2 linked regions of the Homo sapiens genome follow. The protein of the gene in region 2 interacts with the protein of the main gene of each other region in a pairwise test. Each region holds a gene or a part of one and is shown on either strand. Other genes may lie near its edges.

What was found.
Region 1: the proteins of SHISA6 (region 2) and ANKS1A interact in a two-hybrid assay, tested with the Homo sapiens proteins (one large-scale study listed by BioGRID).

The regions. Positions count from the first base shown.
Region 1 is NC_000006.12:35,084,563-35,088,376, reverse strand, and holds part of ANKS1A (ankyrin repeat and SAM domain-containing protein 1A), read right to left. Parts: intron 2,612-3,814; coding exon 2,441-2,611; intron 1,426-2,440; coding exon 1,328-1,425; coding exon of another isoform or gene 1,306-1,327; exon of another isoform or gene 1-1,305. UniProt on the Homo sapiens protein: Regulator of different signaling pathways. Regulates EPHA8 receptor tyrosine kinase signaling to control cell migration and neurite retraction.
Region 2 is NC_000017.11:11,261,419-11,265,232, reverse strand, and holds part of SHISA6 (protein shisa-6 isoform 1 precursor), read right to left. Parts: intron 1,868-3,814; coding exon 1,707-1,867; intron 1-1,706. UniProt on the Homo sapiens protein: Involved in maintenance of high-frequency synaptic transmission at hippocampal CA3-CA1 synapses.

The sequences.
Region 1 (3,814 bases), on a different chromosome or scaffold from region 2:
TTTATCGACTTGGGTTTTGACTGCCCTGGCCGACTGGCTTTCCTAGTGGACTCTGCTATGTGTGCACGGCTGCCTATGGGCGCCGCTTCCTTCCTGTCTCCTGCCATCCAAACTGATTTGCCCACACTGGAGAATGGGGTGCCTCTTCAAAGACTCAGCTCCACCATCCCAGCTTCTGAGCTGCTGCGATGGGACGGCCTCTCCTTTCGGAGGAGTCAGGAGGCTGAGGGAGGTGGTCAGGGGCATGCTGGACGGCGCTGTCTATCTGTGATCCCCCACCGTGGAGAGTGTCAGAAAGCTCCCAGAGGACAATGGAGGCCACTTGGTCCAGGTCCCTGTCCTCCAGCAGCTCTGTTCTGTGAGGGAAGAAGGTGCGCCGTGTGTGCAGGGCACAGGCCGCCTCCTCGTTGGTTCTACGGAAGGCCTTCCTCCTCAGTGAGCTAGACTCCAGAGCCAGGCCCAAGGCTGCCAGGCCTTGAGACTCCATGGCGAAGATAGAGGGGCTGTCCACACACATGCCACCCACCTCCTTGGAGGGGAAGGCCCATCAGGACTGAGACACCTGCTGTGTGAGCCAGCCTGTGAGTGTTCAGATACCCAGAGCCCCAAGTGGGGCAGTCAGCACGGACCCAAGGGCCTGGCGCATATCTTGGGCCCTCACAGAAAGCAGTCTGTCCCTGGTCCAGCCACATCACTGAGCTCAAGGTCTCACAAGGGCCTAGCCATGAGAGTGAGGCCAGCACCTCGGAGTAGCGGAGGACAGTGGGGTGGGGCTGCAGGCCGGCTGTGAGCAGAGTGCTGGGGACTCTGGCACTGGGTGGTCACAGTGGTTGGTTGGTTCAGGAGAGGTGAGAACAGTCAGCTAGCTCTTGGCAACGGTGCCCAGCTGTGGCTCAGTACAGCAGACAGGAGGAGGGAGCCACACAGAGCCCAGCCCAACCCTGGGGAGCTATCAGTGCCGTTGGGATCCTGCTGGAGACTGCCCTGCCCGTCGGGGTTCACAGTGCCTGCCCGTGGAGGCTTCCAGGGTGCAACAGAACCCCTGAGCCCTCTTGATGCCCACCTCAAAGGCAACTCACCCCCTCAAGCTGTCCTCAGCCCAAGGGGGAGAATTCACAGTGTTCGGTGGTGGTAGGTGCGAGAGCTGCAAGTGTACAGCGTCTACGCTGCCGCCCGCCCAAGAGGAGCAGGTCCCAGTGCAGGTGGGGCCTTGGCATCAGCAGCTGGAAGGAGAGAGTTGAGGACAGCAGAAAGATCGGATGGCAAAGGCACAGTGAGACTAGTGGAGACAGGGAGTGGGTTGTTTTAGAAGATAGTGGTCTCATACTTGGTGCTGAGGCTCCGCTTAGAGTCTGGTTTGGGGTCCACAACCCAGGAGACACTGGCATGGGATTGGGCATCTTGGTCCATATCAGGTGGTTCCAGCTGCCAAACAAGGAAGCAGTCAAGAGTCAGAGGGAGCTCTGTGCCAGGGCTGGAGGCAGCAGGCCCCTCCCACCCCCAGGCCAGGCTGTGGCCCCTGTGCTGGGAGGGGCAGCCCTTATTCTCCTCGGCCAAAGAGCAGGCCCCTGGGGGCAGGCGGAGGAGGGACACCCTCCTGGAGCATCTTGGGGAGGGCCACCTCCAGGCACAGCTTCTCTCCGGGATTTCTTGGGATTGCTCAGTTAAAGGACCCCTGTCCTAGGCGGGCCTCCTGCTCTAAGCCCCAGACCCACTCACACTGGGCAGGAAGGGGATATGGGGCTTGCAAATGTCCAGCCTCGGGTCTCTCTGGTAGGCCCAGAGAGCTCACCCCAAGGCAAGACCACAGCAGTCACCCCAGACCTCTGGAGAGAGGACACACAACAGAAAAACAGAGAGGGCTGAAGCACACACAGAACAGGCAGAGGGCATCTCAGGAAGAGGGGAAAGAATGTCACACAGGCAGAGGGAGAGGCCGCCAGAGGCTAAGAGCGCTCACGGTCACTTCGGGGAGACTGACACACAAGACAGCAGGAGGCGTAAAGACCTTGACTCCAGGACTAACAGATGGCAGCGGTAGGTAGGAAGGACGGTGGGTGGTGCAGGTGTGACAGTAACAACAGCGACTATCGGGGGGCAGCGGCACCTGGGGTGCAGAGCAAAGCAGACACAGACACAGGGATGGCGCAGTTACTGGGGGCTGCCTGCAGGCCGCTCTCTGCAGCCCCTTGACGGCCTTGCCCTTGGGGGAGCCCAGCGAGGGAGGGAAACAGGAGCATGAGAGGCCCGCCCAGGCCAGAGGAGCTGCTGCCTTTCCAGGGGCGAGACCTGGCAGGGTTGGGGGACAATTAAGAGGGTCATTTCCCTGGAGGGCCAGCTTTCTGGAAGTGCCAGAAGACCCTCCTCACGCTGACCACCCTGAGCCCTTGAATCCCTGGGGCCAGGGAGAGGGGGATCTTGGCCAGTGGGGCCCACGTACTGCGGATTTCCTCACGCCGACCCGAGGCTTAGGCACCGGTTTGGAAGATTTTGTTTCAATCATCTCAGCTGCAGAGGCGCCCGTCGCCCTGGACTTCTGGGCCTGCAGGGCCAACTGATAGGCCACTTCGAAGGCCTGCCCCAGCGTCAGGATGATCTCGTAGGTCAGGTTCTGGGAGGAAGCAGATCACCACTTAAGCACCTGGTTCAGGAGCCGCTTCACACTGGATATGCCCTTCCTCGCAGGGACCATGTGTCCCCCTCTAAGTCTACCCGGGAGCGCTCCTACCTCCTTCCACTCTTCCCTCCTTTCCCTCCTTTACTCTTCCTAGGTCTCTGTTGTTCTTCCCGCTCTACACAGGATGTGGCCGGGAGCTGGGCTGCGGGGAGGGCAGGTGCACACTGCTGTAAGCCTACGGCAGGTCTTTTCCAAGGCAGGGTGCCGTGCCTGCAGCAGTACTTGGGTATTTCTTACCATTTAATGTAAGTGGTGCTAGTGCTTTTATTTTTAATGTGTCACCGACAAAGTCTGTGAGTGCTGTGCCCCTAACTCCATTTCCCCATAAACCCTGTGGTTTTCCTTGTGTGATTTTACACAGCACAGTGATTGTTAGGAGCGTATGTGTGGCGTTACAGCAGAACTGAGTGTATGTGGGAAAAGTCAGCAACAGGTAAATGCCACTGACTGTGCTGTGTGGACCACCTCATCCATCTCACAGTGGCCCCTGAGGTGGGCCACATTATATCCCCTCCAGACAGATGAGGAAGCAGGCAGATGCGATGTTTCCAAGCTCACACAGCCAGCAAGCAGCAAAGCCTGGTTCCTCCTAACCTTCACTGGCCCAGAGCAAACAGAGGACTGGGGTGGATGAGGTCCCAGGAGTGTGGGGATGCCCAGAGCTGCCTGTATTCCAGGAGCCACAGAGATTCTGGAAGCAGCTGCTATCCCTGAGGGCGGCAGAGACCTGGACCCCTCTGACTTCCTCCCGGGGTGAGGAAGCAGCCTGGGGCCACTCTCATGCTTTGTTGCAGGTTAGAGGGAACCCCCGCCTGTGGGCTGTCAGTTCTGGTCTGCTCCCTGTGGGCAGCTGTGTGAGAATGAACTCTCCTCGGCCCAGTGGCATCCAGAGCCGAGCCTCAGCAGGAATTTGAGGGAAGAAAATCTGCCAAAGAGGGCACCACTGCCCCTAAGAGGGAAGTAGAGGGCATTTCTGGGAGGCGGCCCAGCCAGAGGTTGGAGACCTAGGGCAGGGAGCCGGGGGAAACAAAGGCCTTGCCTGACCTAAGAAAACACTCGCCAAAAAGCTGGAAAGTCAGGGGCGGTGGCTCACGCCTATTATCCAGTTACGTGGGAGGCTGAGGTGGGTAACTTGCC
Region 2 (3,814 bases):
TAGAATCACCTTGGGGAGATTGTTTAAAACACTAATGTGATGCCAGCACCATCCCTAGAAATTCTAGTGATTCTGTGGAGCCCAGGCATCAGCAATTTTAAGACCTCCTCAGGTGATTCTAAAACGCTGCCATGTAGATGACCACTGGTCCAGAAGTTTTTGCCAAGATTCCTTCTATTGCTTGTTTTAAGGACCTATGGTATTAAAGCTGAAAATGCATCTTAGACATTTTGCAAAGGTGGAGCCCTCATCTTTACCTTTACAGCAGAGGTTTTTAACTTTGGATGAATCTATTAATTCCCCTCAATCATATACAAACTGTTGATTGAATATGAATATGTATATGTATTTGTATTTTTCAGGAGGGAGTGTCATCTGCCTTTATTAGGTTCTCAAAAGATTTAAGAATGCTATTTTAAAAGCAAATATTAGGTTTCTGACGTAATAAATTTAAGAAAATTAAAGAATGAATGGAAAATAAATTTGGTCTCATCAGCACCTTTGCTATAGTTTGGATTTGATCACACCCACTGCCACCTAGTGGCTATATATCCTTATTGCAGGTTTAGTTCAGATCACATTGCCCATCCTCTGAAAACTGTTGAGCAATAGATGTGCAGATTTCAGATCCAAGCATCAAAGTAAAAGCTTTCTCTGGGACTAGGATTAGTACCAGTAAGAGGCTATCTGGAAACACTCACTACAAGAGATGACTTCCCAAGCTGTACTTGTTAAGGAGACTGTCCACTCAGATATTTTGGATTCATACCCTTAACTGGGTAAGGATATTACGGTTTCCTAGTTCTTACTGTTGTTAACTATTTGCCTTGGCTTGAATCTTGTTTTTCTCTCTTACTAATCATGTGACCTTGGGAAAGTTACTTAACCTTTCCATTCCTCACACAAAATGGGGATAATATAAGTACTTCTAAGATTGCTGTGGAGAATAAATAAGAAAATATATGTAAAAGGCTCAGCATGACTCTTGGCACAGAACAAGATTCCAATAAATATTTAGGTTATATTACTGTTATTACTGATTTTTAAATTATTATTAACATCTCAGTGACCTTGTTCAAGTTACTAAATTTCTTTGAGCTGCATATATTGACCCGTAAGACAAGGAAAATAAGCCCTGCCATTTTCTTCACAGTTATAGCTATGATAAGTACAAAAAGTAAAAGGCATATTGTTATTTTATGGCAACTCATCATACATCCAGGGAATCTACAGAGCACAGGAAAAGGTCACTCAAAAATACAGATGTTAATTCTCACCCTCAGGAAGGAGCTCTTTGAGATCCCAATAGTTGAGCAGGCTCTACATTGGGGTACAGTAATTTCTTGTCACATATCTAGCATCCTACTCAGCCTAAAGTTTCCCACCACGTGGGCGAATGGATGGCCATACCCTGCTATGGATGCTGCAAGCTCCTTTTCCGGTAAGAGAATTATACCAACCACTCACTAGGTCACAAGTGCCTGAAATTGTCAGTCCTCATCCAGCCCAGACACTGACCGGCAGCAGTCTTGCCCATTCCAAACTCACCCCAGGGAGAGAGTCCCAAAAATCTTTTGCCAGCCTGCCTGTCCATGAGAGTCCCTCATCACACCATCATGGTCCACAACCTGCCCCACCAGAGCAGAAACATCCTGAAACCTCTCACCAGCCTCAGCAAAGAATCAAGGTGCCCAGCTGTTACTTACCTGGAGTCTGCTTGGCCGTACGCACAGGAGTGTAGTGGTTTTTGGAGGACGATCTGACCGGCGTGTTCTCTTTGGGAGAGGTATCGATAGCCGAGATAGTTTCTCTTTCACAGTGTGCTATGGGGATTGGTCCCTGTTGTCTTAAGATGTCAGCCAGAGCCCTAAACAAGGAGGAGATCACATAATGAGATTCACTGAGCAGGTGTGCACAACCATGAGGGGAGTTGGCTTACTTTCATATGCCCTTTGATTTACAGAGATGCAGGAAGAGACAGAGACAGCATTCAGCTCTCAATAGTCAGCTACATCTGGTGTTGGTCTCAGGGGGGACACAGGGTAAAGGTTACCATGCCTGGAGGTACAGACTAAAAGGCTGGGACTACGGTTTCTTTCTTTAATTTATTTCACATCAGTAAACTCTGAGCCCTTTCAAAATACTGGCTCCCCAAATATCCACCTATGCCAGGCAGGTATCTATAGCAGCTGGCCAGTGGAATGCCACTATGGTGAAGGGCTGAAACCATCGGCCTCAAATTCAGCAGCAGGTCACTAATATCAGGGGACCACTTCATCATCCAAAACTACACACTGAGTATCATGTACTAGATACTGGAGACCCAAATAAGTACAACACACAGCTCCTGCTATCAAGGAAGGGTGTGATTGAGCTGCAAAGACAGGACATAGAGATGAAAAGATAAAAATCAAAACACGTGGATGGTGCAGACATTGAAGACAACTGGAGTTTAGAGGAGGGAGCAATCACAAACACAGGGGAAAAATACACAGGAAGAAAGAGAGACAGGCAGAGACTCTGCCATAGCAGGAGAGACCCGCCCCCCTGCAAGAGGTCCAGTTACTCAGAGAAAGCAGCTTTTGTTAACTCAGCGCCTAGCTTCAACAACCAAACATGCATTGACTGACGATTCAGCATGCATCAGTCATTGAAGAGACACAGATCAATGGGACCCAATTCCTGCCATCTAGGGGTTCATAATTTAGGGGGAATCGCTCTCCTATTTGCTTTCAAACAGGATGCCCTCTGTGGGTGTGACATGTGAGATACCCACTGGCAGTGGGAAACAGATGAGTGTGGACAGCCACAAGAAACTACACCTGGATACTGTCACTTCAGATCCAGGTCCCCAGTCCTCAATGCACTCCCGTTTTGCACATGCCAGGCAAAGACTATTCCATCTTCTCGAGGGGTGTCTCTGATGGGTGGGGCCCTGCCCACCCCAAGGCTTCCCTCTTACCAGGAGTCCAGCTCCAACACTCTGCCCCCATGAAAAGTGACAACTGCAGCAGTTTAAAAATGCATCTGAGTAAATTGTGGGGGAAAGAATAGTTTCTTCACAAAATGGTCCTGGGACAACTGACTGGATCGCCACATGAAAAAGAAGGGAGTTGGATCCTTACCTCACACCATATAAAAAACTAACTCAAAATGGATTATATACCTAGATATTAGTCCCAAAACTGTAAATCACACTGAGATACCTTTTCATACACACTAGGATAGCTATAACCAAAAAGCCACATAATACCAAGTATTGGCAAGGAGGTAGAGAAATTGGAGCCTTCATACACTACTGGTGGAAATGGAAAACCCTGCAATCCCTTTGGTAAACAGTTTAGCAGCTCCTCAAAACTGCAATGTTCCTTAAACGCAGAATTAACATATGGCCCAGCAAATCTACTCCTAGGTATTCCCAAGAACAATGAAAAATATATGTTGCATTAAACTTGTGTACAAAGGTTCATAGCAGCAGTATTAATAACAGCCAAAGGGTAGATACAACCCAAAAGTCCATCAACTGCTGAAAGGAAAAACAAAATGTGGTCTATTCACACAATGGAATATTATTCAGTCATTTAAAAAAGGCATACTGATACCTGCTATCACATGGATGGACCTTGAAAACATCATGCTAAGTGAAAGAAGCACACCATAAAAGACCATGCTTCTGTAACATACCCAGTTAGGTAAATCCGTAAAGACAGAAAGCAGAACTGTGGTTACCAGGGGCTGTCTCTAGGTCATGTGAGAAAAGAAGAAAGCAGCTTGCGCTATGCGATGTATCTTCTGGGAGAGGGCTCCTGATGCC